3 separate regions of the Homo sapiens genome follow, and all the other regions are linked to region 2. Evidence: fine-mapped expression QTL. A gene starts in region 2. Each other region holds a variant in brackets. All regions are shown on one strand. Distances are between the middles of the regions.

Region 1 (10,806 bases), 24 kb before region 2:
CAAAGTCTTCTTTTTTTTTTTTTTTTTTTTTTGAGATGGTGGTCTCACTCTGTTGCCCAGGCTGGAGTCCAGTGGCACAATTTCGGCTGACTGCAGCCTCGACTTCTCAGGCTCAAGCAGCCTTCCAGTTCAGCCTCCCAAGTAGCTGAGACCACAGGTGCACACCACCATGCCCAGCTAAGTTTTAAATAATTTCTAGAGACAAGAGCTTGCTATGTTGCCTAGGCTGGTCTTGAACTCCTGGACTCAAGTGATCCTTCCACCTCGGCCTCCCAAAATGCTGGGATTATAGGAATTAGCCACCTCACCCAGCCAAAGTCTTGAAATGGGATAAAACAGGAGTCCTCAGTCCTGGTATTGACCCCCTCACCAAAGTCACGCCCCTTTCGATGTTTATAGCAACTTGATAAAAACCAGGGCTGTGAATTAAATGTCCATTAACAAAAGAATAGGCTCACTTTTATAACAAAATACTATGCAGCTATGAACTATGTATACTACATATTTATAAACACTAAGTGGAAATTATGTTCCTTCTTATATTGTTTAGTTAGAGGAGTGAGTATTGACAGAAAAATGCTTCCCTCTTTGATCCCCCAGGTTGACAGTTCTGAGATGCATTGCACAAGGCCCCCCAGGAGGTCCCAGCAAAATCTAGCACCAGTTACTCACGGCACTGTCCAGCTCAGTAATGAACCTTTCTATTAGCCGCCCCTCTTTCCCTGCTTCCCCCACTCCCCGCCCTGATCCCTGCCCCTACGCCCTGCAGTCACCTCCCCAAGTCAGTGCATACAAGCTTTTGTCTCAGAATTTGCTTTTGAGAGAAGCCACATTAAGAAAGACATTGCTGGCCAGGCCTGGTGGCTCATGCCTGTAATCCCAGCACTTTGGGAGGATCACTTTAACTCAGGAGTTCAAGACCAGCCTGGGCAACATAGCAAGACCTTGTCTCTACTAAAAAAATGTTTTTAATTACCTGGGCATGGTGGTGTGCACTTATAGTCCCAGCAACTAGGGAGGCCAAGACAGGAAGATCACTTGATCCAGGAAGCTGAGGCTGCAGTGAACTGTGATTGCATCACTGCACTCCAGCCTGAACAACAGAGCGAGACCCTGTCTCAGAAAACAAAACAAAAAAAGAAAAAAAGAAAGACATTGTCAAGTGAGGACATGGTGTTTAGAGCTGCCTTATCCATGTGGCAACCAGGGGGCAAGACCTAGAGAGCTTCAGAGAAGCTGACCCAGAATGCAGGCACAACTGAGCCACATAATGACCAACTACCTCTAGATATCTTGTTCTGTGAAAAGAATAAGCCCCTATTGTTTAAGTCACTCTTAATTGGGTTTTCTGTTACTTGCAGCAAAGGTACTTTTTTTTTTTCTTTGAGATGGAGTTTCACTCTTGTTGCCCAGGCTGGAGTGCAATGGCACGATCTCAGCTTACCACAACCTTCGCGCCCTGGATTCAAGCAATTCTCCTGCCTCAGCCTCCTGAGTATCTGGGATTACAGGCATGTGCCACCACGTCCAGCTAATTTTTTATATTTTTAGTAGAGATGGGGTTTCACCATGTTAGCCAGGATGGTCTCGATCTCCCGACCTCAGGTGATCTGCCGCCCGCCTCGGCCTCCCAAAGTGCTGGGATTACAGGCATGAGCCACTGCACCCAGCCCATGATACATGAGGCCAATTGAAGACCTCCTTGGGAATATTTTATGTAGAAAAGAAGGCAGAGGAACAAGCTCTCCGTATGGGGAAGCCTGAGGGTGTCAGCTAGGCAGCTCCTGGTGACCACAGTTCTAGCTTGTGGACAGTGCTGATCTGACAGAAGCAGAGAAAAAAAGAGAGAGAGAGTCCTGTGATTTAAATTCTTCTGGCAGTGAATTCCTCTTTTTGCCTAAGATATTTCACACAGCATTTCTATCACTTGCAAACAAGAGTCCTGCCTAATTTAAGTAAGAGCCATTCTTGTTTTGTTTTGTTTTGTTTTAAAAAAAAAAGTGGGGAAAAAAGTGGGTGCATGAGTGTGAATGTGTCTTCATCTAAGCATAGAAAAAATCGGAATGGATACACTTAACAGTTGACAGTAGTTATTTCTGGGGAGAGTCAGAATAGAGGGGAGTAAGGAGGACATATGTATCATTTGTACTTTGTAAACTTCTCAATGTTTAAACTTGTTATAATGAGCTTGTATCATTTTGCAATTTTAAAAGTCTAAAAACTACAGAAACTCTGAGATAATAAATGTGTGTTATTTGATGCTGTTAAGTTTGAGGTATACAGCAACGGAAAATACACATAGGGAATCACTGAAAACTTGACAACCACTGCTTGCAAACCACCCAACAAACCTCAGATAGACAACCACAGGTCCCAATGCCCACATAAAACCAGTAACAATTTGCTGAGTGAAGGACTGATGCTGGGAAGTTGTATCCAACTGGCCTGTGACCACGGCCCCACGTGCACAGATAATTTCCCCTAAAATCCAACCCAAGTAAGCCTATGACGTAAATTTAAAAACAAAACCTAAACCAGCAATCTTGCTCTGCAACTGCAGCTTCAAAACAAGCTTATCCACTTGCCCCTTTCCAACCCAATACATTTCTAGAGAGAAAAATCTAGAGTTGCCACAGGTCAATGAGTCTGTATAAAAAGCCTAAATGCTAAAGGAAGCAGGAAATATGGGGTACCATTCTACGCACACAAGCTGATGGGATGGAACCAGGACCAGAGAGAATGGGGTTATGGGAAATGGATACAGAGGCTGGCTCAGCCATGAGCCACTTGGTAGATAGGTCAAAGCACATAATCATAAGGACATGACAATCTCAGGGTGGAGATGACGTTGGCAAGTGGAGTGCAAACAGCTAAAAGGAAAGCAGGTGACAGTTCTGAGTGGTGCTAGCAGAACCCGAAATGAAAGGTGGAGTGTGCCAGGAACAGCAAGAGAGGGGACTGGCAAAATCCTGTGTGGGGCTAGAGAATTGGGAGGCAGCATCCATTTACAGGGAAGACCCAGATTCTGGGCAGGGATACTGAGGCAAAAATTCAGGCTTATGAATAGTAAAAGCTACATGGCATACTTACTACATGTCTACATGCCAAGTGCTTTAAACTATATTTCACTGAATTCTGCCAAAAACCCCATGAGGAGGGAACTTTTATCATCTCCATTTTTCAGATGAAGAAACTAAGGCAGACAGAATATATGTGTTTTGCTCACAGTCACATAGCTCATATATCAGTCAGCTCCAGATGCCATAACAGAATACACAGACCGGGTGGCTTAAACAACAGAAATAGATTTTCTTGACATTCTGGAGGTTCAAAATCTAAGATCGAGGTGCTGGCAGGGTTAGTTCCTGGCGAGGCCTCTATTCTCAGCTTGCAGATGGCCACCTTCTTCTATGTCCTCACATGGCCTCTTCTCTGTGCACTCGTGGAAAGAGATCACTGGTTTCTCTTCCTCTTCTTACAAAAACACCAGCCCTGTCAGATTAGGGTCCCACCCTTAGGAACCCCATTTAACTGTAATTACCTCCTTAAAGGCCCTATCTTTAAATATAGTCATATTGTGGGCTGAGGCTTCAACAACACATGAATTTGAGGAAGACACAGTCCAGTTCATAATAGCTCATAAGGAGCAAACATAGACAGTGTGACTCCAGAGCCTGATGCTTTTCGTGTGTGTTAATACATATTTTATCAAGGTATAATTTAAATATTATAGCTCACTTAGTTTTGAATAAATGCTTATGTCCATGGGACCCACATGTCTATCAAGAACGATACAGTTCTCTCAGCCACCACACCCTACCAGACCTCGTGATGACAGAAGGTGCTGCCACTGGTAGATTTCACAGCAGGCAGTAGTCATCCCTAGAACTGTGGACACAAGGTCCACCCCCAGCCAAGACTCGATTCTGAGCTCCCTCCCTCCCATGCACACACTGCATGGGGCTTCCTGCCTGGGCCAGTCCTCACGCTCTGCTGCTGTTCTCTGGGTCCCAGGAGACTGACCACTGCAAGCTGTATTTCCCAGGATATTTTTCCTCCTCCCTCTCTGCCTTGGGCAGTATCTCAGCATCTCTTCTCTGGCTCCAGCTCCCAACAGATGACCCTAGTGCCTCCTCTTCGGTTTAAAAAAAAAAAAATACGACCTCCTCCCTGTTGACCTCCAGTTTAGAAGTGGTACTGGTTTTCTGCTATCACAATTCTTTGGATTATCTCACCATCCATTGTTTGGCTTCTCAGCTCTTTTGTCTCCTGTATAACCAGTTCCCTGCATATTCCCTCTGTTTCAAATGCTCAGCAGGGTTTCTCTTTTCTGGATTATACTTTTCTGGTATACTGACATATTCCCTATTTGTCATAACTGGCTCAGTAACTGGGATGAGTCTAGATATATAGATGGAGCCCAGGCACAGAGGCTGAAAGCTAGAGGACTCATAAGCAGAGGTTTCTCCAAGAGAATACCAGGAATTGTATTACATTTGTTCTCCACTTATTGACAACTTATTGGTCCATCTTGTTATCAAATTTGCACTTGTTTGATTTATTCACTGTCTATGGCTCACCTATTTTTCAGGTAGACCTCTAACTGACATCAAGACAAAACATGCCTTTATCACCAGCTTCTTCAGCTGTTGTCATAACTGTAAGCTACTATTGGATTCGTCACACTGCAAATACCTCATGTTCTCACTTATAAGTGGAAGCTAAATGATGAGAACACACGGACACACAGAGGGGAATAACACACACTGGGGCCTATTGGAGGGTGGAGGGTGGGAGGAGGGAGAGGATCAGGAAAAATACCTAATAGGATTAATACCTGGGTGATGAAATGAGACAAGTTTACTTGTGTAACAAACCTGCAGCTTACCTACGTAACCTATTACCCCTGAACTTAAAAGTTTAAAAAAAAATGTGCTTGCTAATATGAAATGGTTGGGGAGAAAAGAGGGACTAAGGAAGACAGGATGGGACACTAACACCGAGGAGCCTTCAACA[G/A]CCTGTGGATATTCCTGGGGATCCTATCAGCCAGCTGGGGGTGGAGGAGGAGCCACAGGCAGAGCCTTTCAAGAGGCAAATGCCCGTCCAGCTCTGGCCCCAGTTTTCCTTACGGCAGCCTCTGCTTAACTATAAAATCTATACTGAGTAGATTACCATGACTACCGCAGAAAGACCTCCACCTCTAGTTTGGCTGCAAAACTAAGTCTTTTCTTCCAAGAGCCTTTGGCTTTAGGAGGGAGCACCAGGAGGCAGACTGCAGCCACTGGCTCACTGCCCTACATGCCAGGGCCTTCTGCAGAACCGCAATAGTTACAAGTCAAGCTTCCTTTCCTCAGCCCATACCACCAAAGCAATGGGCTGTTGGCGTGCCCTGACAGCAGGAGGAGAAGCCCCACTGTCAGGGGGTAAAAAGAAACGACACAGTTCCCACTTCTTCACTCTACGTGATAAATCACTTCAGCTGGGAGAACTGTCATGAAACGACCTGGCAGCTAATGAGAGAAATGGAACCCAAAAAAAGAAAGAAAGGAAGAAAGAATCCTGTTAGTCACAGAGCTTTTCATCTGAACCGCAGAACAGGCTCGTGCTTTTTGCTTTCTGTGGGAATAATAAAATCACAGTCCTGTAACTATATTAGCTCCTCAAACAAAAGTAACTCCCTAGAATAAAATTATGAGGGGTTTCTGAGTTGGATTTAGTTTTCACTGGGTAAAGGCATAAATTAAAAGGAGGAACCGGGTACCCTTAAGAAAGTCAATGAAGTAACTAAGCTTGCTATTCAAACCAGGAAAACACAGGCTGTGAGGCAGCTTCACTCTGCAGTCTATTCAACACCTGGCGAACAAAACAACACTGACTCTGCCCAAGCCGGGATTTTCCCACAGTGGACCAGCAATTTCAGAGGCCCCTAGAATGCCAGGACTGTGTCTTAGACCTTGGAAAATAGGATGAAAAGGACAGGCTCAAAGGGATATTTAGTTCCAAAGGAAAATCACAAAAGCTAAAAGTTATTATAAGAGAAAGGCCCTAAAGCACATTACTGGAGATAAAATTTTAAGGGTAAATAAATACCCTTTGTGGAAAAGTGTTTAGGAAAAAACACAAAGAGAGCATGAATACCATATTATAGGTACAATATGTTCTATCCAAAATAAAAAGTAGGTTCAGAATCACATCAGCCTAATCATGCCTCCTAAGCAGCAGGCTATGTGAGGTAGAGAAATGTGGGCTCAGTACCTCTATCCCACATTCTTCATCCTCCCCTGCTCCACCACACCCACCTCCTGCCTTTCAGAACCGCCTTCCTCCAAAGACACCCAGGAACCTCAGAAAGAATGCTTCTCTAAATTATTCATACCACAGTGCTACTTCCTGTCCTTTCCTTCCAAGAAATATTTGCTATGTTAAAACCCAGTGAAAGTGAGCAATGCTTGAAACAAATAGTGAATCACTCCTGGTAATATTTCAGGCACTGGTAAAAATTTCATTGGATGGGGGAGGGAAAGAGGAGTCTCTTTCTCATACTCTAAATTATACCACATATAAAAACAGACTATAAACATGACCTCTTTTATGTGGAAATTCACATTGCATAGGTAGAACATTATTTTTTTAAATGCTGACTTTCAAAAGTTGACATCAACTTTCAATCAAAATACTCATGTATTTAAAGAAGACCAGCAGAAAAATATTTATGAACTTATTTTCAACTTGTCCCCATTTTTGAACTTTTTTATCAGTGAAGAAATGGAAACATTTTTTCAATAACCAACAAACCTTTCTAAAACCCTGTTTGATCTTGCCACACTTCTATTAGTAAACCAAAATATTTTGGAAGTGTTTTATCCAAATTACACTTTGGTCCTGATAGGGATAAAATCCAATAAATGATAGGTCTATGTCCACATGACAATTATATGAGGTTCCTACTGTAATACTGGCATTCTCATTTCTGACTGTGGCAGTCTGTTGCAGAGATAGCTATAATAATCCCTCCCCACTGCATGCTCTTTTTTGCTGTGACTTTGCCACTCCTCCCATCAATAGATGAAGTCTGCTTCCTCTCCTCTTGAATCTGGGCTGGTTTCATTATTTGTTTCGACCAAGAGATTCTAGCAGAAAGGACTCAGTTTAATTGCTAGGCTTAGGCTTTCTAAAGAAGCTTTAGAACCTCTATCTTGCCCCCTTGGAGCTCCAAGCCTCCATGTAAGAAAGTCCAGGGTATACTGCTGTACTGCTAGAGAGTCACCTAGAAGAACACCGAGGTGCCCCAGTTGACAGCCAGTTCCAGACATGTGAGGAAGGCCATATTGGATCCTTCTATCCAGTCAAGGCCAGCCACCACATGAAGAGCAGAGGCCAGACTTCTCCACTGAGTCCTGCTCAAATTGCAGATCCACAGAATCATAAGCAAATGACTGCTTTAAGCTACTTTGTTTGAGGTGGTTTGTTACATAGCAGTAAGATAACGAAAACACAGACCTTATACAAAAATGACTAAATTGTGTAAAGCTACCCAGAACAGACATCTCAAAGACCAGATACCTGATCTAAGAAAGCACAGTCTGTCTCGCCGGGCATGGTGGCTCATGCCTGTACTCCCAGCATGAGCTCCACTGAGTCCTGCTCAAATTGCAGATCCACAGTCATAAGCAAATGACTGTTTTAAGCTACTTTGCTTTGAGGTGGTTTGTTACATAGCAGTAAGATAACGAAAACAGACCTTATACAAAACTGACTAAATTGCATAAAGCTACCCAGAACAGACATCTCAAAGACCAGATACCTGATCTAAGAAAGCACAGTCTGTCTTGCCGTGCGCGGTGGCTCATGTCTGTACTCCCGGCACTTTGGGAAGCCGAGGCGGTGGATCACGAGGTCACCAGTTCGAGACCAGCCTGGCCAACATGGTGAAACCCCATCTCTACTTAAAAAAAATAATAATAATACAAAAATTAGCCGAGTATGGTGGCGGGTGCCTGTAATCCCAGCTACTCGAGAGGCTGAGACATGACAGTCGCTTGAACCCAGGGGACGGAGGTTGCAATGAGCCAAGATTGCACCACTGCACTCCAGCCTGGGCAGCAAGAGTGAAACTCCATCTAAAAAATAAAAAAAGAAAAAAAAAGAAAGCATAGTCTGTCTCAGTACAAAAAATGTAAATGATCAAAGTCCATATCATGGTCCAAATCAGAGAGTGTTCCCTCAATATCCATGCTTGCTTTTTTTTTTTTTTCCTTTCTTTCATTTTTTTTTTAACAGGGTCTTACTCTGTCACCTGAGGGTCTTACTCTGTCACTGGAGTGTGGCAGTGCAATCAAGCCTTACTGCAGCCTCAGCCTCCTGAGCTCAGGTGATCTTCCTGCCTCAGCCTCCTGAGTAGCTGGGACCACAGACGCATGATAATTTTTTAAAATTATTATTTGTAGAGATGGGGGTCTTGCTATGTTGCCTAGGCTGGTCTCAAACTCCTGGGCTCAAGTCATCCTCCTACCTCAGCCTCCCAAAGTGCCGGGATTACAGGTGTGAGCCACTGTATCTGGCCATGCTCCCTTTTTACAGCAATGGGTCTCAAAATGTGGTCCTGGACCAGCATTATCAGCATCACATAGATACTTGTCAGAAATGCAAATTCTTATTCTCCTACTGAATGAAAAACTGGGGATGAGGGCCAGTCATCTGTATTTCAACAAGTCTTGCCGGTGATTCCGATGCACGCCATAGCGTGAGAACCAGTATAGCAATAAAACCTCTGATGTTTAGCTGGTAAACATGGCCACCTGGACAAAGAGACTAGGTAAGGTGGCTGCATAAGGCCCCTTGACTAAGTTCTGTCAAAACAGAAACAACAAAAAGTAAAATAAAAAGTTCTGTCAAAACAGCAAAAAGTAAACAGAAATGTGAAAAGGGGAGTTATCTTCTCTGACTCCTCCTGCTTCATGATGGCTGGAATTCAGATGTGATAGCTGGATCCCCAGAAATAGTCTTAGACAAGAGATGATGCTGAGAAATTAATCCACGCACAGCAGAGCAACAAAGTGGAAGGGGTATGGGACCCTGGCACTGTGGAGCTGCCATATTAGCTCTGAACTGACTCCCTGATTTCCTGAACAGAAAATTTCTACCTTGTTTAAGCCTGTTATTCTGTTTTCTATCTCTATAATATCCTAATGCATGATCTTAATAAAGTTAGTCCCCTTTCCCCTCACCTACTAAGATGTTCTTTAATATAAGAATATTTTCTTTATTGTCACAAGTTATCTTGCAGATTATTTCTTTAGTTGTTTGACTCTCTTCCTATTGGTCTGGAAGCTCTATGAAAGCAGTTACATTTTCTTTATTATTGAATCCCCAGCATCTAATACACACTATCCTCACAATATTTACTGAATGGAAGATGGAAGGATGGATGTAGGCAAACCAAATTTTGTCCGTTTTTGGCACTGATAAATTGACTATGCTTCAAAATAAATCTTTTAAATACTAAATTTTCAACAAAACTATCCCCTGCCCATATCCTAGCTTTGTTCCACATTTAATCTGAATATGAAGCAATAATATCAGTAACAAACACTTTTAGAAGCTTTAAAATGTGCCAAAGACAAATTCCAATACAGGAGCAACCTACAATATACCTGACCAGTCCTCCTCAAACTGTCAAGGTCATCAGAAATAGGAAAGTCTGAGAAACTGACACAGCCAAGGGAGCCTAAGGAGACATGACAACTAAATATAACACAGTATCCTGGGATGGATTCTGGAACAGAAAAGGACACTAGGCAAAAACTAAGAAACTCTCAATAAACTATGGACTTTAGTTCAAAACAATACTCTATCAATATTGCTTCATTAATTATAACAAATGTACCATACTAATGTCAGATGTCAGCAATAGAGGAAACTTTGGGTAGGGTGGGGTGGGGAGGTTACATGGGAACTCTCTATATTATCTGCTTGCTTTTTCTGCAAGTCCAAAACTTTCCTTAGGGCTGGGTGCGGTGGCTCACACCTGTAATCCCAGCACTTTGGGAGGCCAGGGTGGGTGGATCACTGGAGGTCAGGAGTTCAAGACCAGCCTGGGCAACATGGTGAAAGCCTGTCTCTACTAAAAATACAAAAATTAGCCAGGCGTGGTGGCAGGTGCCTATAATCCCAGCTACTCAGGAGGCTAAGGCAGGAGAATCACTTGAACCTGGGAGGTGGAGATTGCAGTGAGCTGAGATCTTGCCACTGCTCCAGCCGGGATGACAGAGTGAGACTCCATCTCAAAAAAAAGAAAAAAAAAACTTTCCTTAAAAATAAAGTCTATTAATAAAAGACGTGTGCCAAAGACTGTTACATATATCAACTCATATTGCCTGTATTAATTCTCATAGAGACTGAGATAGATAACTATGATGAGCCCTATTTTACAAATCCAAAATGTACATTAAGTTATGTTCCCTAAAGTCCTTTAGGCTTATGCTATATGTTTCTTCTGGATCAAAATCTATTTGATTCAATTATTTAACATAATGTGTATTGCTTATTGTGTGCCAGTAAGGGACTGAGTTTAGGCAATTCTATGAGCAGAGTTAAAATTGGGAGAGCAAGGAGGCTTTGTATCAGCCCACTAAAATTTAAAGGGCACAAGCAAACATTTTCAAGAATTTTCTGTTCTGAAATGTGTTATATTTACATGTTGACAACACATATATTTCTCTAACAGGTAGAAACAACTAAGCTTGATATCTAATTATCAAGAAAAATTACTTAAATATGAAGCCACCAGATGGCACAAAGTGTTAA
Region 2 (10,806 bases):
TGGAATGCTGGGGGCAAGAGGTAGTTAAAATAGTTTTAATAGAAAACAGGAGAAAAGGAATTGGGGCAGTGAATATAGAACTCTTTCAAGGATTTTATAGTAAAGGAGAACAAAAACAAATGGGACAGTAGCTGGAAGGGGAAGTAAAAGCCAAAATTTTTTTTGTTTTGTTTTTCTGGTTTTTAAAATCAGTTTTAAGATACAATACATTAATTTGCATGGGGGAAATGTAACTGGTAAACAGACCAGAAATAGTTGTGAAGAGATTAGTGCTTTCTTTTCTATCTGGAAAGTCAAATTAAAATCACAGCTGGGTGTGGTAAGCTCATGCCTGTAATCATAGCACTTTGGGAGGCTGAGGTGGGAGGACTGCTTGAGCCCAGGAGTTTGAGACGAGCCTAAGCAACACAGGGAGACCCGTCTCTACAAAAAATAAATTTAAAAATATTAGCTGGACATGATGGTGTGTGCCTGTCATCCCAGCTACTCAGGAGGCTGAGGTGGGAGGATTGCTTCAGCCAGGAGATAGAGGCTGCAGTGAGCCATGATCGCACCAGTGCACTCCAGCCTGAGCAACAGAGTGAGATCTTGTCTCAAAAATACTAAACAAATAAATAATAAATAATAAAATAAAACCACAGGATTACTTAGTGAGCATTGATAACAGCTCCTTTCACATTGATTTCAACTGTGAAGAGTCTCAGCATCCCCTTCTTCTCAGCAGGGGAAGAATTTCTGAGTAGATCTGATGCTTGAATCAGCAGGGTAGAGCACACTCCCTTGGCCAGTGCTGGAGAAACTGTTACCATTCATTCACTCTTTCATTCAACAGACACTGCTGAGCACCTACTATTACATGACAGTTACTAGGATACAAGTTCAACAAAACACAACTTTGCCTTTAGAGAGTTCATGGTTCAATAAAGAATATATGTAAGTATACATGAAATGAATAAGTATAGTTATAAGAGTTAAGAGTGGTACATGTATATAAAAGAGACAAAAACAAATTAAGTGGTTATCTATTCAGTAATGGGGACATTTGGGTCATTCACATTTTTTTAGCCATTATAAATAGAGGGATACTGAGGATTTCAATTAATTCCTCACCCAGAAGTATTTATTTATTGCTATCTATTATATTAAGACTATAGGAAATCTTACCAAATAAGAAAGAAACCCATAATATATCCCCCTCCTTGCTTTAAGGCACTAATCCCATTCACAAGGGGTTTACCTCCCAAGTAGAGAAGTTGAAAATGTTAGGACATTTGAGAGGAAAGACAATCTGTTTTATTCATAATTTCCCCAGTCTCTAGAAGAATGCCTGGCACAAAGGAGGTGCTCCACAGATATTTTTAGAATAAATGAAATAGGTCACCATGGTCTTGGGGTTAGGTAGGAAAGCAAATCACAGGAGGTGATGAACTAGGGCAGGCAGGGTTCATGGAACTTGAGCTCACAGTGAGGGTGAAAATTATATTCGACAGCAGAAATGAGCAAAAAATAACAGGAAGAGGAAGTTGTGATTATAGAAAAGCTCTCAAATACTACTTTCTCTTTGAAGCCTTTTATAATCATCTTATGGGACCTTCCCCCTATTCTGGACCTCTTTCAAGATACTTTTCTTATACTCTATCAAGTTACATCCATGTGTGCTCCTCTTTCATCTCCCTGATATTGACCACATTTTGCAATTGGAAAACTGAGTCAAAAATGGGGGATCACCTGTAGTCCCAGCTACTCAGGAGGCTGAGGGCAAGAGAGTCACTTGAGCCCAGGGGTGTGGGGCTGTCACATGCGATGACCGCTCCTGTGTACAGCCACTGCACTTCAGCCTGAGCAACACAGCGAGAGACTGATCCTGGAAAAAATTTCTTTTAAAATGCAGGTGGCTTCCAAATCCCAGAGACAAAACTTGGATGCTGAAAGGAGAAATGTCAGATAGTGAGATTGAAAATGCTAGAGTATATCCGAAGAGAGAATATCCAAGAGAGAAATGTCAAAGTAGAGAGGCTGAAAATCTAGAGTATACCCAAAATGTTAGTAGTAAAATAACTTGCATTGGAATGAATGGATGATTGAATAAATGAATGAACAAAGTTAGGTGGGAACGGAGGTCATTTGAGCAGAAGTCAAGAAGAATATATGTTTTAATAATTGTTTGAGGCCCACTGGTCTGACAGTAAGGGCCCAAATGAATAGGGAAAGCTAGCCTCCAGTTAGAAGACACCTAGGAAGTTAGCAAAATAATCAATGATAATAGAGTCTAAATGAAGGTTAGTGTATATAAAAAGGAAGAATGAATATGAGGACATTTTTAAATAAAAACTCACCATATTTGGTGGGTGATAATTATAGGTTATGAGTAAATAATTCCAAAGTTTTTTGATATCATGTATAGAGCCACGGTAAGAAGAGCAGGAAGATGAACTCAATTTTGAAAACGTATTTGACACGAGGATAAGCTATCCAAGTAAAAGCTAGTAATAGGCAACATTTTTCCTAACATTGTTCCAAGTATACTTCACATGTATTATGTCACGTAATCATTACAATAACACTATGAGGTGCTATTATCATCTTTATTTTACAGATGGGAAAACTGAGGCACAAGAGTGAACAATTTGCCCAAAGTCATTAGCTAATAAGTGGCTGAGCCAGTGCAATGAATTCACCCCCACCCCTGTCTCCTGCAAATTCGTATTTTTGAAATCTTCACCCTCAATGTGATGGTATTAGGAGATGAGGCCTTTGGGAGGTAAACCCCTTGTGAATGGGATTAGTGCCTTATAAAAGCAACCCGAGAGCTCTTGCTCTCTTTCTGCATTGTGAGGTAAAGGGAAAAAACAGCCATCTACAACCCTGAAGAGGGCCTTCACCAGAACCTGACCATGTTGGCAGCCTGATTTCAGATATCCAGCCTCCAGAGCTATGAGAAATACATTTCTGTTGTTTATAAGCCACCAGTCTATATGGTACTTTACTACGGCAACCTGAACTCACTGAGAGCCAGGATTTGAATTCAAATGTTGAGAAAACTTTGCCCGGGACCACTCAGAAATTCACTATTTATTCGATAAATACCTAACAAGTACCACTATATTCTAGACATTGTGCTGTTGCTAGGGAGAGGAAAAGCTGGTAGTGAACAAGACAGACGTGGTCCTTACCTGCACAATTACATGGACACTAAACAAATAATGAGAAGTAGGAATTGGAAAAGAAAGTGATAAGTTACAGTTAAGTAGGAGGAATGGGTGACAGAAAAAAATTCCAGGGGAAGGGAAGGGCATGTGTAAATGCCCTGAAGTGAGAGCCTACAGTAGGGAATAAAAAGAGGAGAGCCTGGAAAAAATTAAAATACTATGGCAGGAGTGCAGGCAGCTAGGGGGACAGATGGAGAGGCTGGAGAGAAAGACAAGTACAGATAATGGAGCTTAGACAATGTGTGGTAAGCAAAGGGAGACCACTGGAGGAATTTAAGCAGGTCAATGATCAGATTTATATTTAAAAAATTACTCTGGCAGCAGTATGGCAAATGTATTGGAACGAGGCAAGAGCAGTTTTGGAGGACCTGAATGGGTTACTGTGGGACTTCAAGCAAGAGGCAACAGTGGTTTAGACTAGAATGGGAATGAAAAAATGGTCATGGGAACAGAGAGAGGTCACAAATCCAATTTTCCAGGGAGCAGACAGATGTAGGTGATTCTGCTGTGTGTTGGAGGTGTGCTAGGTTTCTGGCATGAACTGGGTAGATGTTAAGATACCCTTTACTGAACCAGGGACTATGGGAGGAGCGTTTTGAAGGAATTATGATATACGGGTTGAGTTTGAAATGCCCTAAGTCATCCAAATGAAAGTGTACCAAAGGCAGTATGCTGGGAACTATGAATGTAGGATTCCAGAGCAAGATCTAGGCTTGAGTTATGGATTGAAGAGTCTTTGACAGAGGGTATTTGATGCTGCTGGGAGAGCATAAGACCACCTAGGAAAGTGTATGGGGAGACTCAGTAAGAGGGCCAGGGTTCAGCTCAGCATGATTCCAATGTGTAAGAGGTAGATCAAGGAGGAGCTGGTTGTTAAAGAGCAAACTCAGGTAGGGAGGAAACCTGGGACATAAGACCAGAGGGAAGAGGGTATTTGGAAGCAACTGTGGTCAATCGCGTCAAATACTGGGATGAGGGCTTGTAAAATGAGGACTGAAAATGATCCGCTGCATTTACAGTCATGAAGCTTGTCTGTGGACAATTCAGAGCCACTTCAGGTGAGCGGTGGGGACACTGGAGAGGGCTGGGAGGTGGGACATGAAAGACTGTCCATGGGGTAAGAGACAGCTGCAGTTGTTGGAGAGCAATTTAGGGAGAAGAGAAATCTTTTTAAAGAATTGAAAGACTTAAGCATGTTTAAATACCAGTAAGAAAGAGCCGGTAGAGAAGGAAAGGTTGAGAGTAACAGAAGGAAAGGAGACTCGTTAAGGGCAAAGTCCATAAGAAAACAGTAGGGTACCTGGAGTACCAGGAAGGACAACTCTTTCTTTACAAGAGAAGTGAGTCATGGGCGGAGTCCAGAATCGAACCCTCTCTGCTTCCTAAAGACACGTCTCCTTTAAAGGACAGAAAAAGAATGATTAAGACTTGAGGCCGGGCGCGGTGGCTCATACGTGTAACCCCACCACTTTAGGAGGCCGAGGCGGGTGGATTACCTGAGGTCAGGAGTTCCATACCAGCCTGGCCAACATGGTGAAACCCCGTCTCTACTAACAACACAAAAATTAGCCAGGTGTGGTGGCAGGTGCCTGTAATCCCAGCTACTAGGGAGGCTGAGGCAGGAGAATCGCTCGAAACCGGGAGGCGGAGGTTGCAGTGAGCCGAGATCGTGCCACTGCACTCCAGCCTGGGCGACAAGGGCTAGACTCCGTCTCATTAAAAAAAAAAAAAAAAAAAAAAAGACTTGAAACCCCAAGGAGAGGGCTGCAGAGTTCACTATCAAGGAGAATGGGGACCTAGTGGTGCCGTCCTGAGAGACCTCTGAAAGAACAATTCAGTAGTTTCCAGCCACGGAAGTCCCCCTGCTGGGTTTAGGGTGCAGTGGGTGCGAATCCCTGCTGTAGAAAACAGGCTGAGGAAAGAAAGCGACACAGGATGTTGTCTGGAGAAAGGCGGGGAGGTAGGATGGGGCATATTTCCAGGGGTCCGGGCAGGTTGTGTGGCTTGGAGGCCTCCGAGGGCCGTCGACGTCAGCCATGGTCCGGGCAGAGCCCCGCAAGGTGCCACAGTATCGGGGCCAGCGCCCCCCGGAAAAGCATGCTCCGCTGGCGGCCGCCAGGTTTCTCCGCGGAGTCTCGGAAAGGAAAACCCGTCCCCACGGGGGTCCCACGACGCCCCCGGGTCCCAGGCCCCGGGACGTTGGCAGAGGCGCAGCAGACCTTCTTCCCCAGCCCGCACGGCTCCAGCGGTCCGGCCGCGTCCCAGCCCGGGCTGCCCGTCCCCCGTCTCCCGGCGGCGTCGGAAAGTTCCCGGGGCTGGCGGCGGTCAAGAGCAGAGCCAGGGCAGCCGCAGCCGCCTTCTAGCCCGCCGCTCACCGCCGCAGGGGCAGGCCTGAGCGGGGGTTTCCACCAAGTCGCCGACACCCCTCGGGAATTCCCCCACTGGGCCACACACAAACCCCGCTTCCTCCTTCAAATTTCCGCTGCCGGCTTTACCGATGCGAAAGCCGCGGTGGAGTTTAGACCACTCCTCCCGGCGCCGGGCTCAGCCCGCCTTCGCCTTCCCTCTCCCCGCGGAACCCCTTCTCGTCGCCCGAAGAAACCCGAAGGTCTTCGGCAAGTTCCGTCCCCAGCGCGGGGGCGGGGCCGCTCGAGCTGCTCCGGGCCTAGCTCGGCTGTTTCCGTGCGCGGCCGCTGCGCACTCGGCACTGGGCGGCGCTGGCTGGCTCCCTGGCTGCGGCTCCTCAGTCGGCGGCGGCTGCTGCTGCCTGTGGCCCGGGCGGCTGGGAGAAGCGGAGTGTTGGTGAGTGACGCGGCGGAGGTGTAGTTTGACGCGGTGTGTTACGTGGGGGAGAGAATAAAACTCCAGCGAGATCCGGGCCGTGAACGAAAGCAGTGACGGAGGAGCTTGTACCACCGGTAAGAGGAGCAGGAGGAGGAGGCAGGAGCCAGAGAGAGCCGGGGGGACGGAGGGGGGACGGGGAGGCGCCGGACACCCGCGCTTGGGGCCTTCCCCTCGCAGGAGGGGCCGCGGTAAAGATGGAGCCTCCGCCCGAGCCCCACAACATCGCCGCCGCTCGCAGCGAACAAAGAATAATGGCGGCGGACTGGAGCCAGCGGCGGCCGGGGCGGCAGCGACTCTGCCTGCAGCCAGCGGCGGCGCTCATGGCGGGGGGCGGCGGGCGGCGGGCGGCGGGCGGGGTGGGAGCCGGCGGCCGGGGGTGTGTGCGGGCGGCCGGCCGCGGCGAGCTGGCGCCCGCGTTCCCGCCGCCGCCGCCGGGCCGGGCGCGGAGCCGGGAACCCGGAGCCGCCCCGGGGGAGGCCGCCCGCTCGGCCCGGCGCTGCCCCCCGCGCCGCTCGCTCGTCCGGCCCCCGCCGCCCGCCTCGCCCCCGGCCCGACCCGGCCGGGCCTCCGGGGCAGCCGCCGCCTAGGTGCCGGTGGGGGATGGAGGAGGAAGAAGGCGACAGTTGAGGGCAGAGGAGGTGAAGGTGCCTGCTGCCTTCCCGGTGGCTTCGGTGCCTGCCATGCCCGCTTCGCAAGGGGAAGAGCTGCAACGTCTGACCTACTCTTCTCTCCACTCTTTGTGCAATAAAGTTCGAAACCCAAGGTTTCCTCTCGTGCTGTATTTTATTCGTGCCCTTTCCCCCCCGCTCCTACACCGTTGAGGAAATGCTGCTTTCTGCCCTGTGTTGCTTAGTTGAGAGATGAGAGCTTGTGCTTTTGGGGGGAATTTTTGACTCCCTCACCCCTTTGCTTTTTTTTTTTTTTTAAAGTCAGTCATGGAAATGCATGCTTTTTGGGAGAAAGGGTGCTAAGAAAAACATTTATAATAACTTTTTAAACTGTTGGGATCTTATAAAAGGGAAGCTGGTGTTTGAAAACAGTTTCGGTTTTAACCCTTTTTAATAAGGTAATCATCACTTGAGATCTATCATTCTGAAACACTTCGTTGGAACGAGTATCAGCCGATGTACTCTTGTTTTACATCATTTCGCGGGGTGCAACCTTGCCAACCGCGTTTGGGTCATCTGGATCTCCCCTCACCCTCCGTCCCACTCCCCCTACCATATTTCCCACGAATTTCTGTGTGAACTTTAATGAGAGATTGATTTAATACTACTACTAAAAATAGACATTAAAGTATCCATTATTTGTCTCATGCAGTAGGTAACCCCCGTCTTGAGATTGACAATTTAAGCCACAAGCTGTATTTTTTCTTCGCCTGTTGGGAAAAGAGGACAGCAGAAAAGTCATTGACACATTAAAAATTAAAAGACAGTTTTTGAAGGACGTGCGGTATGACCTATTTAAGTTTGTAATACCATCTCAAGTTATAATTCTAACCTCAGCTGGCGTCTAACTTCTGAAGGTTTAGTAGAAGATACTTTTGATTGCTGCCTATTGAAATCTTTTACATTTATGGCTCATTTCGTGATTTAAAAGTAAAGCCCCGAACAGTTATTTTAGGTGGTGCAAAAGACGAACAAGTTTGTTTTAAAAATACTTGTCTGTCACTGTATGATTGCATTGTGATTGATACGTACAAACCTTCTGGTTAAGAACAAATATTGATTGGCAGCAGAAGCACTGTCTTATTTTTCTGTATTCTAGTCACTTTTCCAAAACGTGCTTTGCTGTATTGCTTCTCTTTAAAAGACCACATTGGCAATTTGTCATTTCCAAGAAAATTAAGAAGAGGCAATAAAGGCAGGTTTTCTATAAAGATTGGGGAAATGATTTTATTTCCGAGCACTGAAAAAATTATAGTATTGATAATGGTAGCTTACCATTTTTCCTTTATGTTGTTCCGCAAGCCACTATCAGTAGAGTAGAATTTTTTTTCTTGTTAAGAATATAAGTCGGGCGCGGTGGCTGAGGCCTGTAATCCCAGCACTTGGGGGGTCGAGGCGGGCGGATCACTTGAGGTCAGGAGTGCAAGACCAGCCTGGCCAACATGATGAAACCCCATCTCTACTAAAAATACAAAAATTAGCCGGGTGTGGTGGCACGCGCCTGTAATCCCAGCTACTCGGGGGGCTGGGGTTGCAGTGAATTGAGATCGTGCCATGCACTTCAGCCTGGGCGACACAGCAAGACTCCGTCTCAAAGAAAAAAAAAAAAAAGAAAGAATATATGACTCTTCATTTGTGAGATTTTTAAAAAATTGTTCACTGATGGCCGAGTGCGGTGGCTCACATCTGTAATCCCAGCACTTTGGGAAGCCGAGGCAGGCGGCTCACGAGGTCAAGAGATCGAGACCATCCTGGCTAACATGGTGAAACCCCGTCTCTACTAAAAATACAAAAATTAGCTGGGTGTCGTGGCGCGTGCTTGTAATCCCAGCTACTAGGGTAGCTGAGGCAGGAGAATCTCTTGAGCCCAGGAGGTGGAGATTGCAGTGAGCCGAGATCGCGCCACTGCCCTCCAGCCTGGTGACAGCGAGACCCCATCTCAAAAAAAAAAAAGTTTACTGATAAGTTCTTTCTTTAGTCTTGCCCGAGAGATATTTTAAATTGTATTTTTTATTTTTATTTTTATTTATTTGTTTTTTTGAGACGGAGTTTGGCCCTTATTGCCCAGGCTGGAGTGCAGTGGGCTGGTCTCGGCTCACTCACTGCAAGCTCCGCCTCCCGGGTTCAAGCAATTCTCCTGCCCCAGCCCCCCGAGTAGCTGGGATTACAGGTGTGAGCCACCGCGCCCGGCCTGTTTTATTATTTATACATTCATAATTTGTGATTCTTAGCAATTCCAGGTGAAACTTCAAACTTGTATTCATTAATACTTGAACATTCACCTGGAACATGTTACTAAATTGTACTTCTGCACTGTTCCAGCCATGGATAAAAATTACAGCTGGATCTGCTTGAATCTTTTTTTTTTTTTCATGAACACCTACATTTAGAAAGCTAATAAATTACTTGACAGAGTTTGCTTGAAGAATGTTAAAAGAACACTTCTTTGGGAATTTAAAACTTAAGTGTTACCTGTTTTGAATGATTTTTTTTTTGTTTACATAAAGAGCCTGAAGAAACTTAGACACCTGATCCATAAAAATGGCACCTTTTTCTACTTTCTGAAACTCATATTCTTGATTAGGTCTCATTATTAGAAATTTTGGGTTCTTCATAGAGAAGTAGCTTTATTTCTCTCTCATTCTAAGACATTTGGTTTTGTTTGTTTGGATACAGTATGGTTATGGGGTTATAGTAAAACCAAGTATGTCTTCCTCACGTGTTTTTAAATTCTACTTTTTATAACAGAAAATTATTTTTAACCTAATGCTTACAATATATTACCGAAATTTATAATTTCATTTATTCCATAAATAGCTTATCAGATATGAGTTACATAAACTTGTTTACAGCCAGCTTGTGACATAGTTTTGCAAATATCTTGATATATGGTGTAACTTTGATGGCTTCTTTATTGAATAGAGCTCAAATCTAAATTTAAGAATGTAATGAGATGTCAAGATGGAAAAATGCAGGATTTTTTTTTTTCTTACCCATGTGTAAACTCATCTGTACTGCAGTATCACTTGAGACAGCAGTTTATGGTAATTCAAATATTTATTTGGCACTCACTGTGACAGAGAATGTAGTTGAAAGAGCATGAGGTTTGGAATCATAGGCCTAGGTCTGAATCCAAGCATTGCCACTGCTATCCTGTACCCACCCTAAAGGAATTTTGTGTCCTGAAGGAAGTTTCTTAATCTTTCTCAGCCTCAGTTTCCTTATATGTAAAATTAGAATACTACTACTTATTTCATAAGATTGCGAGATAAACATAAAGTACCTTAGGGCTACAACTAATGATAGCTAGTCCCTTAAGCTTTATTTTAACTTCCTACCTGTGGGCCCTTAGGCAAGTTATCTTAACTTCTTAATACCTCACTTTCCTTTCTGATCAGTGTAGAACAACTACCTCAGAATTGTGGGGGTTAACTATAAAGTAATACATACTAAGTCCCAGGCATTGTGCAAGTGTCAAGTGCTCAAGTGTTGACAAGGCTTTTTTCTTTTGTTTTAATTTTTTTTTGAGACGGAGTCTTGCTCTGTTGCCCAGGATGGTGTGCAGTGATGCAGTCTCAGCTCACGGCAACCTCTGCTTCCTGGATTCAAGTGATTCTCCTGCCTCAGCCTCCCTAGTAGCTGGAACTACAGGCATGCACCACCACGCCCGGCTAATTTTTGTGTTTTTAGTAGAGACAGGGTTTCACCATGTTGGTCAGGCTGGTCTTGAATGCCTGGGATTATAGGCGTGAGCCACCACGCCCAGCTGGTCTGTTACTTTTTAAATTATTTATTATTACTATATGTAATACAGTGGGTCAGAAGCTACAACAAATCCAAAGATGAATTACGCTGTCTTATCTCTACCCTCAGGAACTGTTGGGGACACAGTGACTAAGGCAAAATATGTGTCAAAAGAAAGCAGTCAAAGGAAAAAGGGATCACCTTTGGTGAAGTGAGGAGTATATTTTTTATATTTCTAATTTGGTTTTTTGAATAAGTAATTCATTCACATGATCTATAATTCAAAACATAATAACAGCAAAATGCCCTACATTCTCTTGCCCTATTACCTAAGTGTTAGC
Region 3 (10,806 bases), 77 kb before region 2:
TACCTCACTACCTCTCTTGGAATCTTGACTGTAATTGTTAAGGAGTTCCATTAGGCATCTCAAACAATTCCTGGAGATGTTCTTTATCAATGGATATTATACAGGTAACTAAAGACTCCCACACTATGGTATGGGAACCAAACCTATGTACATATATGTATATAGGAGACAGCCAAGCATAAAGGGGTCACTGGAGAACCTCCAACCAGCCTGCGCACTGGGAGAAGCGCACACTGGGGTGGAGCCTCGGGAAGTTCCTGCTGTTTGCAGTGGGGAGGAGCCTGGCCTCTCCTGTTCTGGGGTCGTACCTGGAAATCAATCTGTGAGGCGGGAAGCCTGCTAGCAAAACTCTCACTTTGCTGAGAGTCCCTGTTTCCCGTTTTTTCCTTTTCACCCAGTAAACCCTGCCCTTCTCACCCTTCAAAGCATCTATGAGCCTAATCTTTCAAGGTTGTGTGAAAAGAACCCAGCTTTTAGCTGAACCAAGGGGAAAGTCCTACAATATATATATACATGCATGTATGTATTATATGTGTGTGTGCGTTTAAATAGGATCTGTGTGGGTATGGGGTTGATTTACAATCCCCTGTGACTTGGTTGCAGCCCATGTCGTCTGTGTGGATAATGGGTCTGCATCAGAACCCTAAACCCTGCTCCTTTTGTAGTTACAGCATCTTGGTTTTCAAGCTGCCATTATTTTTTATTATCATTAGACACCACATCCTACTTTTCTTTCTTTATCACAGCTCAACTTCTGGAATGGGTATTCCCCGTCCACTGCTTCATCATCTCACATCAGAATTGTTGAAATTGTACTTTTATTACTGTACTACTTTCTTCTCTTTTTTTTCTTTCTCTGTACTTTTTTGTTTACTGCTATTTATTATTATATTACTTTTCTCACTCTTCTAGAAGTTGTGCACTCTCTGTAAGCTCTTAAATCACCAGTCTAGGAAGAGAACTAGGAGGTCAAAGAGGAAAGAGGAGCCACTTGCCAAATTCCAATTGCAGGTGGACACCATGAATATATCACAGAACAGGTCAACTGCCCAGGACTTTCAGAAAAGCTTGGTTTTCATTAGATTCTCCTCCAACTCTTTCATAATCTAGGCTTCCTGCCCTGTGTTAATTATATTTCTGACCCAAAACCAACAAACTAAGAGGCTGCATGTTGTGATGGAAAGTGTGTTGGACCAGATGCCAAAAACTGTGACTTTTAGGGCCAACTCTGAAGCTAGCCAGCTGTGTGACCTTGAACAAGTCATTTCTCCTCCAGACCCGTTGTTCCCTCACTGCTTCAATGAACAGTTAATAAGATTTTGTCCATGATTTCTTCCAGGTCAAAATTATGTCATTCTTTCACCCTAATTCCCTTTCTTCTTACTGGTAATATATCATATATAATAACATAGTTTACAATTCTTATGAGCCAGGTTAAGAGTTATTACTACTTCTTACTAAACATAAATTACTACTCATGAATTACTTAACACCAAAAATGAACACTTAACATGCAATTACAAAAAAAAAATTTTGTTAGCTTTATTTGAGGTATGATTCAGCACATGAGGTATTTAACACACCACTGTCAAAGCAAACCTTAGTTTTAAAACCCAGCAAATAAAAACTGGATCTGAGAAACTGGACCTAAGATTGGCTGGGGTCCATCATCTTTATGAGGGTAGACGGACTTAGAATACACCATTTATCTAAGAATTGGGCAGATAATCTGGAGCAAGAGGGCAGGGGGTGGTAAATTGGTGGGAAAATTAAAGATACATTTTCTCCAGCTGTTTGATTTTTCATGCTGTTGAGTTTTAAGGTTACAGTATGTAACCAGAATATGAAACATCACTGGGAGGAAGGGAACTCATTTAATATTATGTTAGTTGTAGAATTATAACTAGGTGTAAAGCAAAGAAAGTAGTTATCTATTATTCATTCCTTCTGAACAGACATTTCCTGTCTGTGAATACAAAGCATGACTAGAATTTACTTGCTGAAACTCAGAGATGCTATAAGAGAACATTTCATTTTCATTTGATCTGACCTTGTGTATGATAATGGAGCTTCTCTAAAACACTGATGCTTGTCTGTTCTCCTTATATTATGCCCCTGAGAATTATTCCTATTCCTGACCTCATAGATGGGGAAATTAACCTCAGAGAGTTTTTGAGACTTGTCCAAGGTCATCGCCAGGTTCAATCTCTTTAGGCAGTCCTGAACAGGTGTGGCCACAAAAATCAGTGAAGTTAGTTATCTGCGTATCTATATGTGACTTCCTATATTATACGAAGTATTTCTCTCACTGATAACTGAGCACATCCAATCTAGCATGTCAGATTCACCAGAAATTAACATGCATTCTGTTCATTCCAAATATCCCTAGCTGCTTAGTGAACCTGTGAATGAATTAAAGATGGCTTCTCAGCATGATGACAGAAAAAAAATTTCTAGCTAGAGACATTGTACCAGACATAGATGCGCTGGACATAGATGTACTAGATATAATTGAGCCTCATGCTCAACTGCTAAATCAAGTATCCTGCCTCCTGACCAAGGCCTTGAGTTGAACCAAAGCATAAAACCCAAACTATAAAGAACTCAATAAACTGAGATAAGACCTTCTTGGTTTTCTCCTGTATTTGGTTTTTCAAATTTAATTATGAGCTAAATCAACTTCAAAATTCAGACCGTTTTGACCTAGAATCTAATCTACTATTTTCTAAAAATTATTAAGTCAGAATATAATCCCATTGAATTGATATGTCATCCAGTTCAAGCCCTCCAAAAATTGATACATTGATACATAGGTAAGTAGGTGGAGGAATGGAGAGATGAAATGGACGAATTCCCCTGCCAGGACTGCAGTTATTTGCTCCAACCTCTAAAACTACCTAATACACCTCTTCACCTAAATACCCCCTTGCTAAAATCCTGACTGATTAAAAAGCGAAGTTAACAAATTTTCTCTGATGAGTTTTTTATCATGTTCATAGAAAGAGAAGTCTGATATAAAGTAGTAACACAAGAATAAACAAACCTATAATTTGGAGTAGCAGCTCCAGGGACAATAATAAGGTTTTCCAATCTCCCAGATCATAATTAACAGTGTAAAGAATTAAAGAGAAGTTCAGGAAGGAGTGCTTAAACCTTTTTGTAAATTTAAAAACAAGTAATGATCTCCATTGCTGTTCTCCAGGTTTATTCAAATTTGGACAATTAGGACAATTAAACATAAAATAGAGACAGCTCTAAAGAGGGAGCTACAACAAAGCAGAATAATTGCTGGGACTGGCTATCAAATTTACATAAAAAAAGATTAAAAAGCTGATTTACATTTAAAAAACAAGATCAGGCAATATCTAAAATAGATAACACAACCTACTGAGAAAAGCTCTTTTCATCAATAAAGGAGAAGCAAAGGTGATTATATATAACAAAACTAATCTTCTATATTGCTTTAATCACCTAAAACCACTTTAACTGTTTATTTGGGAACCATTTTGTGGGGGAAAAAAATATTGCATGTAAAAGCACGTAATTTCTAGGTTGCAGTAAAACACAGACACCATCAAGATCATGCTATATTCTCAGCTCATTACCTGCTCTCTTCTCTAGATCCTGTCTTCTCTTGGTTATCAAAAATTCTCACCACTTACAAATTCATTCATTCTAGAACTTGAAAATTTGCCATGTAATTGATATAACAGATGCTTCCAGAACAGATGTTCTGCTTATTGTTACTGCATCTCATGAACAAAGTAGATTATAAAGCTTTTTCCTTCCTGGACTAAGCACTTACATGGCATTTTGAGCTTTTTTCAAAAACGAAAAAGAACATAATTACCTGCATTTTAATATGTACTGTAGGATAGAGGAAAAAAAATCTCTTTGTCTCTTTATCCATCTTAGGTTCTCCAGGTGGGACTCTATAAATTAGGCTAACAAAAGACAGATTAACAAGAGAAAAGTATACACATTTATTTAATGGAAGTTTTACATGACACAGGAGCCTTCATCAGAAAATGAAGACCCAAAGAAACGATTAAGCTGAAGTGTTTTTATACCAGGTTTGATAAAGAGTGAAAAGTCATGCAAAAACATGACAGGACAAAAGGGTATGAACTAAGGTTCTGAAAGAAACTTAGCAAGGCCTGTTCATTCTGATTCCTCATAGTGTGTCCTGTCCAATAAATCCAAAAACACTTACTGGCTTTGGTTCTGAATCTCTTGGTAGATACTTCCAGTTTAAAAGAAAGAAAAATAAGAAGAAAAAAGGCCAGGCATATTTGTTATTTGCCTTTGCTGAAATTATAAGATATTTGAAATAATTTTTTTTTTAAGAGCTCTATGGTCAGAAGTTAGCTTAATAGGAAGCTGATATTCAGGCTACAATTTTTGTTAAGTCCCCTCTGTTGTTCTGTCTGTTGGATCCTGCTTCTATCACAGGAACGTCTCAGTCTACTGAAACCTCTCTTACTGAACCCCTGCTAACCATATGGTCAGTCCCTCTGTCCACATTTTTTTTTCTTGTTGGCATGATTTTCGCTGAGGATAATGTGGAAATTCATGTACCTTTTTGGGAAACTTGAGACCTCCCCAAACTAGCTCCTGTAAGACTTCTTTCCATTTGCTTCTGTTCCTCCTTCCTCCCTTTGGCACTTACAATCTGCCATCCAGTTCTCTCGAATCCTTGATTTATTCTCCTTCAAATCCTTACCTCCTCCATTTAGTGGTCAGTGGATGAAAAATTACTAACAGGAAACACCAAAGGTAAGAAAAATTTCAGTCTCTATAGTCAAACTTTAGGTGGGCTTCTGGACCTTCTCCTAGGACTATCCATGTACATCCTTGTAGAATCCTGTAGTGAATTCCTATAATTTTATGTCGCCTCAGAATCCTTTTGAGTCCTCCTCTATGTGTCACCTAACTGACACACCTCAAACTCCTTCTTGGAAAAACTTGCATTCTTTCTCTGTGCCTTTGAGATATAAATTTTCTACCCTTTCTTCTCTAGAATTTGATCATTACCATTTGGAAATACTGTTGTCCTTTGATATCCACAGGAGATTGGTTCTAGTACCTCCCACAAATACCAAAATCTATGGATGCTCAAGTCCCTGATATAAAATAAGATAGTAGTTTCATATAACCTATGCACATCTTCCCATATTCTTAAAATCATCTCTAGATTACTTATAATACCTAATATAATGTAAATGCTATGTAAGTAGTTGTTATACTATATTGTTTAGGGAAAAATGACAAGAAAAATGTCTGTCCATGTTCAGTAGAGATGCGTGCTCTTTAAAACAATATTTTCAATTCCTGATTGGTTGAATCCACAGAAGCAGAATCCATAGATACAGAAGAGATGACTGTCAGGGAGATGACTGTCATCAAAAAGAAAAAAACTGAACTGTTTAGAAATTGGTCAAATAAAAAATCTTAAAAGCCTTTTCCACAAAAAAACTAGTAAAAAAGCTTTAGCCAGGCCAACTGTGGTGGCTCACACCTGTAATCCCAGCACTTTGGGAGGCCAGGGCGGGCCAATCATGAGGTCAGGAGAT[C/A]GAGACCATCCTGGCTAACACAGTGAAACCCCGTCTCTACTAAAAATACAAAAAATTGGCCGGGCGTGGTGGCACACGCCTGTAGACCGAGCTACTAGGGAGGCTGAGGCAGGAGAATCGCTTGAACCTGGGAGGCGGAGGTTGCAGTGAGCCGAGATTGCACCACTGCACTCCAGCCTGGGTGACAGAGCTAGACGCCAACTCAAAAAAAAAAAAAAAAAGCTTTAGCCATCTGAGCAGATAATCTTAACTTGTATCATTTATCAGGTCTAGCTAGTGAGTCTTGAATTATCAGACTTGGTGCAAGGCTAAAAGTGTTAGAGTAAAAGATGTAAGATCTGCTTCTATCTGTATGTTTATGTCATTAAATATAATACAGACATATATTTTTGCCTGCGTTTGCTGGCCAGACAGGTGTATTGTCTCTGCTAGATGGTTAAGGTCATAAAATTATAAACGCAACCTTCAAACAGAATACACAGTAAAAATGAATTCCTGAATTGCTTGATGCACATCAGTCACGGAGAAAAAAAAGAGGAAAGAACCATGTTTAACTTTCTTGTTTCTTTGCTTCTATGATATTTTGCTTGCCTGATTTGTCAACAACAAAAACAACTTGAGACAGAGGTTAGCTTTGTTTGATGTCTCATAAAATTGTCATGAACAGTTCACATAAAATTGTTAAGAATGAGTGAGTTACTGGCTGGGCGTGGTGGCTCACGCCTGTAATCCCAGCACTTTGGGAGGCCGAGGCTAGCGGATCACAAGGGCAGGAGATCGAGACCATCCTGGCTAACATGGTGAAACCCCGTCTCTACTAAAAATACAAAAAATTAGCTGGGCATGGTGGTGGGCACCTGTAGTCCCAGCTATGCGGGAGGCTGAGGCAGGAGAATGATGTGAACCCGGGAGGCAGAGGTTGCAGGGAGCCAAGATTGCACCACTGCACTCCAGCCTGGATGACAGAGCAAGATTCCGTCTCAAAAAAAAAAAATCAAAAAATAAAATAAAAGCACTTAGTTATTTTAAAAAAAAAAAAAAGAATGAGTGAGTTACCAAATGAACTAAATAAGGTGAACTACATAAGGTGCTGGGACCAATCCTGGAGAAACAGATATGTGACCTTTCCGACACAGCATTCAAAATAGCTGCTTTGAGGAAACTCAAAGAAATTCAAGATAACACAGAGAATGAATTCATAATTCTATCAGATAAACTTAACAAAGAGATTGACATAATTTAAAAGAACCAAGCAGAAATTCTAGAGTTGAAAAATGCAATTGACATACTGAAGAAAGCATCAGAGTATCTTACCAACAGAAATGATCAAATAAAAGAAAGAATTAGTAAGCTTGAAGACAGCCTACACGAAAATGCACAGAGGAGACAAAAGACAAAAATAATAAAAAAGAATGAAGCATGCCTACAAGATCTAGAAAATAGCCTCAAAAGGGCAAATCTAAGAGTAACACGCCACAAGCACACACAACCAAAGCAAAAATGGACAAATGGGACCACATCAACTTAAATAGCTTCTGCACAGCAAAGAAAACACTCAACAAAGTGAAGAAACAGCCAACAAAATGGGATAAAATATTTGCAAACTACCCATCTGACAATGGATTGATAACTAGGATATATAAGGAGCTCAAACAGCTATATAGGCAAAAATTTAACAATCCAATTAAGAAATGGGCAAGGCTGGGCATGGTGGCTCACATCTGTAATCACAGCACTTTGGGAGGCCAAGGCAGGTGGATCGCTTGAGCCCAGGAGTGTGAGACCAGCCTGGGCAACAAAGTGAGACCTAGTCTCTAAAAAAAAATAAAAAAAGAATAGCCAAGCATGGGGGCACACTCCTGTGGTCCCAGTTACACGGAAGGCTGAGACAGAAGGATCACTTGAGTCTGGGAGGTCAAGACTATAGTGAGCTGTGTTTGTGCCACTACACACCAGCCTGGGTGACAGAGTGAGACCCTGTCTCAAAAACTAAATGAATACGTATTTTTAATTGGCCAAAAAAAAAAATTTTTTTTTTGAGATGTAGTTTCGTTCTTGTTGCCCAGGCTGGAGTGCAATGGCACCATTTCAACTCACTGCAACCTCCACCTCCTGGGTTCAAGAGGTTCTCCTGCCTCAGCCTCCCAAGTAGCTGGGATTACAGGCATGTGCCACCATGCCTGGCTAATTTTGTATTTTCAGTAGAGACAGGGCTTCCCACATTGGTCAGGCTGGTCTCAAACTCCCGACCTCAGGTGATCCGCCCGCCTTGACCTCCCAAAGTGCTGGAATTACAGGGGTGAGCCACTGCGCCTGGCCGGGAAAAAAAATTTGAATGGACATTTCCCAGAAGAAGACATACAAATGGCAAACAGGCATATGAAAATGGCTCAACATCATGGATCATCAGGAATATGCAAATCAAAATTACAATTAGATGTCATCTCACTCCAGTTAAAGTGGCTTTTATCCAAAAGACAGGCAACAACAAATGCTGGAGAGGATTTGGGGAAAAGGGAGCCCTTGTATGCTGTTGGTGGGAATATAAATTAGTACAACCACTATGGAAAACAGTTTGGAGGTTTCTCACAAAAGTAAAAATAAAGCTACCATACAATCAGGCAATCCCACTGCTAGGTATATACCCAAAAGGAAGGAAATCAGGATATGTAAGAGATATCTGGGCCGGGCGCGGTGGCTCACGCCTGTAATCCTAGCACTTCGGGAGGCCGAGACGGGCGGATCACGAGGTCAGGAGATCGAGACCATCTTGGCTAACACGGTGAAACCCCGTTTCTACTAAAAATACAAAAAATTAGCCAGGCGTGTTGGCGGGCGCCTGTAGTCCCAGCTACTTGGGAGGCTGAGGCAGGAGAATGGCATGAACCTGGGAGGCGGAGCTTGCAGTGAGCCGAGATCGCGCCACTGCACTCCAACCTGGGAGACACAGCGAGACTCCATCTCAAAAAAAAAAAAAAAGAGATATCTGCACTCCCATGTTTATTGCAGCACTGTTCACAATAGCTAAGATTTGGAAGCAACCTAAGTGTCCCTCAACAGATGAATGGATAAAGAAAATGTAGTACATTTACATGATAGAGTACTATTCAGCCATAAAAAAGAATGAAATCCCGTTATCTGCAACAACATGGATGGAATTGGGACTCATTGTATTAAGTGAAATAAGCCAGGCACAGAAAGACAAACTCATGTTCTCGCTTATTTGTGGGAGCTAAAAATTAAAATGATTGGCCAGGTGTGGTGGCTCACGCCTGTAATCTCAGCACTTTGGGAGGCTGAGGCAGGTGGATCACAAGGTCAGGAGATCGAGACCATCCTGGTTAACACGGTGAAACCCCGTCTGTACTAAAAATGCAAAAAATTAGCTGGGCGTGGTGGCAGGCACCTGTAGTCCCAGCTACTCCGGAGGCTGAGGCAGGAGAATGGTGTGAACCCAGGAGGCGGAGGTTGCAGTGAGCCGAGATTGTGCCACTGCACTCCAGCCTGGGCAACAGAGCGAGAGTCTGTCCCCAAAAAAAAAAAAAAAAAAATTAAAACGATTGTTGAACTCATGGAGATAGAGAGTACAAGGATGATTACCAGAGGTTGGGAAGGGGGCTTGTAGGGAAGTGGGAAGAGTTAATGGGTACAAAAAAAGTTAGAAAAAATTAGTAAGACCTAGTATTTGATAACAGGGTGACTGTAGTCAATAATAATTTAATTGTACATTTTTAAATAACTAAAAGCATAATTGGATTGTAACATAAAGGATAAATGCTTCAGGGGAAAGCTATCCCATTTTACATGATGTAATTATTATGGATTGCATGCCTATATCAAAGTATCTAATGTATCCCATAAATATAGACACCTACATACCCACAAAAATTAAAACTTGAAACTTAAAAAAAAGAATGAGTGAATTAGATGAATATAAGTAGGATAATAGTTTATAAGCAAAGTTTTTCAATAACAATTATGTTTTAGAAAATATGTCTAGTTAAAAATAGTTTTAAAATCTTTTTGGTAACTTGAAACCTTAAAATGAAATTAAGTAATAGATACTTATTAAATATCTGGGTCACTTCTAAGTAAGTTAAAAATATTGAAACACTAATTACTAGGCACAAGTTTATGTACTTTGGCATCTTGTTTTTATATAGTACAGAGAAGCTAAATAGATTGAAGTTGGTTAAAAACATGAAAAATTGCTTCTAGAAATTATGAAATGATGAATGCTGTTATAAAAGAGTTTATAATGCTTGCTAGTTTTCACTAGAAATTAAGGTTACTGGCCAGGCATGGTGGCTCACGCCTGTAATCCCAGCACTTGGGGAGGCCAAGGCCGGCTGATCACGAGGTCAGGAGTTTGAGACCAGCCTAGCCAACATACTAAAACCCCGTCTCTACTAAAAATACAAAAATTAACCGGGCATGGTGGCGCGTGCCTGTAGTCCTAGCTACTTGGGAGGCTGAGGCAGGAGAATCACTTGAACCTGGGAGGCGGAGGTTGCAGCGAGCTGAGATCACGCCACTGCACACCAGCCCAGGCGACAGTGCAAGACTCAGTCTCAAAAAAAAAAAAAAAAAAAAGAAAAAAAGAAATAAGGTTACTAAGAGTTAAACGTTATAATTAACATATGTAATTAAACTGCCAGAAAATATGAGGGAAAACTTTCTTTGCTTAGAAATAAGATGCATTTGATAAGGAAAGTTATGTAAATGACACATTTTTGTTTTTTAAAAAGGCTGAATTTTTTTTAAGTTTTAAATGATTTATGGAAATGTTATCTTTTGTGATCAAAACTAAGATTGGATGAATTTATTAAAAGATTTTATTTAAAATTAGCTTTAGTATTAATAGTACGCTAATGCAAAAGTGGAATTTGGTCTTCTCTGTTAAAGTAACAAAGTTTTCTAGAAGTATTGGTCTGAGAATGTGAAGGTTTTTTTTTTCTCCTTTTCAGTAACTGACCTAGAAAACAAAGATTTTGTGTTTTATCAAGATCATTTTTGGGCTTCATGCTGTATTTTATTAGGTCTTTGATTACATTTTATTCACAACTATGCAACCTTTTGTATTTGCCTTTAAAATCTTTTGTTGTCGGCCAGGTGCAGTGGCTCACCTGTAATCCCAGTGCTTTGGGAGGACAAGGCAGGAGGACTGCTTTAGCCCAGGAGTTCAAGACCAGCCTGGGAAATACTGCAAAACTCCATCTCTACAAAAATAAAA

Evidence for each region. PIP is the estimated chance that this variant, and not a neighbour inherited with it, causes the effect. A credible set is the group of variants that fine-mapping cannot tell apart.
Region 1: its variant is the best candidate, but not a certain one, in a credible set for the expression of CREB1 in whole blood (INTERVAL, PIP 0.89).
Region 3: its variant is the best candidate, but not a certain one, in a credible set for the expression of CREB1 in whole blood (INTERVAL, PIP 0.81).

What each region holds. Positions count from the first base shown.
Region 1 is chr2:207,499,554-207,510,359 of GRCh38, forward strand. No RefSeq gene overlaps it. Among named protein-coding and RNA genes, the nearest start is that of CREB1, 25 kb to the right of the region's middle. RefSeq lists an enhancer at 3,986-4,045. The variant G/A (reference allele first, on the strand shown) is at 5,017.
Region 2 is chr2:207,524,008-207,534,813 of GRCh38, forward strand. CREB1 (cAMP responsive element binding protein 1) reads left to right here and starts at 5,955. Exons shown (of 8, transcript NM_004379.5): 1 at 5,955-6,127. LOC124907970 (a long non-coding RNA gene) reads right to left here and starts at 5,590. Exons shown (of 3, transcript XR_007088060.1): 1 at 5,429-5,590; 2 at 4,510-4,606; 3 at 1-1,925. RefSeq lists silencers at 5,324-5,503, 6,174-6,303, 6,334-6,383, 7,094-7,263 and enhancers at 5,524-5,723, 5,984-6,083, 7,672-8,173, 8,174-8,673.
Region 3 is chr2:207,446,619-207,457,424 of GRCh38, forward strand. No RefSeq gene overlaps it. Among named protein-coding and RNA genes, the nearest start is that of CREB1, 78 kb to the right of the region's middle. The variant C/A (reference allele first, on the strand shown) is at 5,574.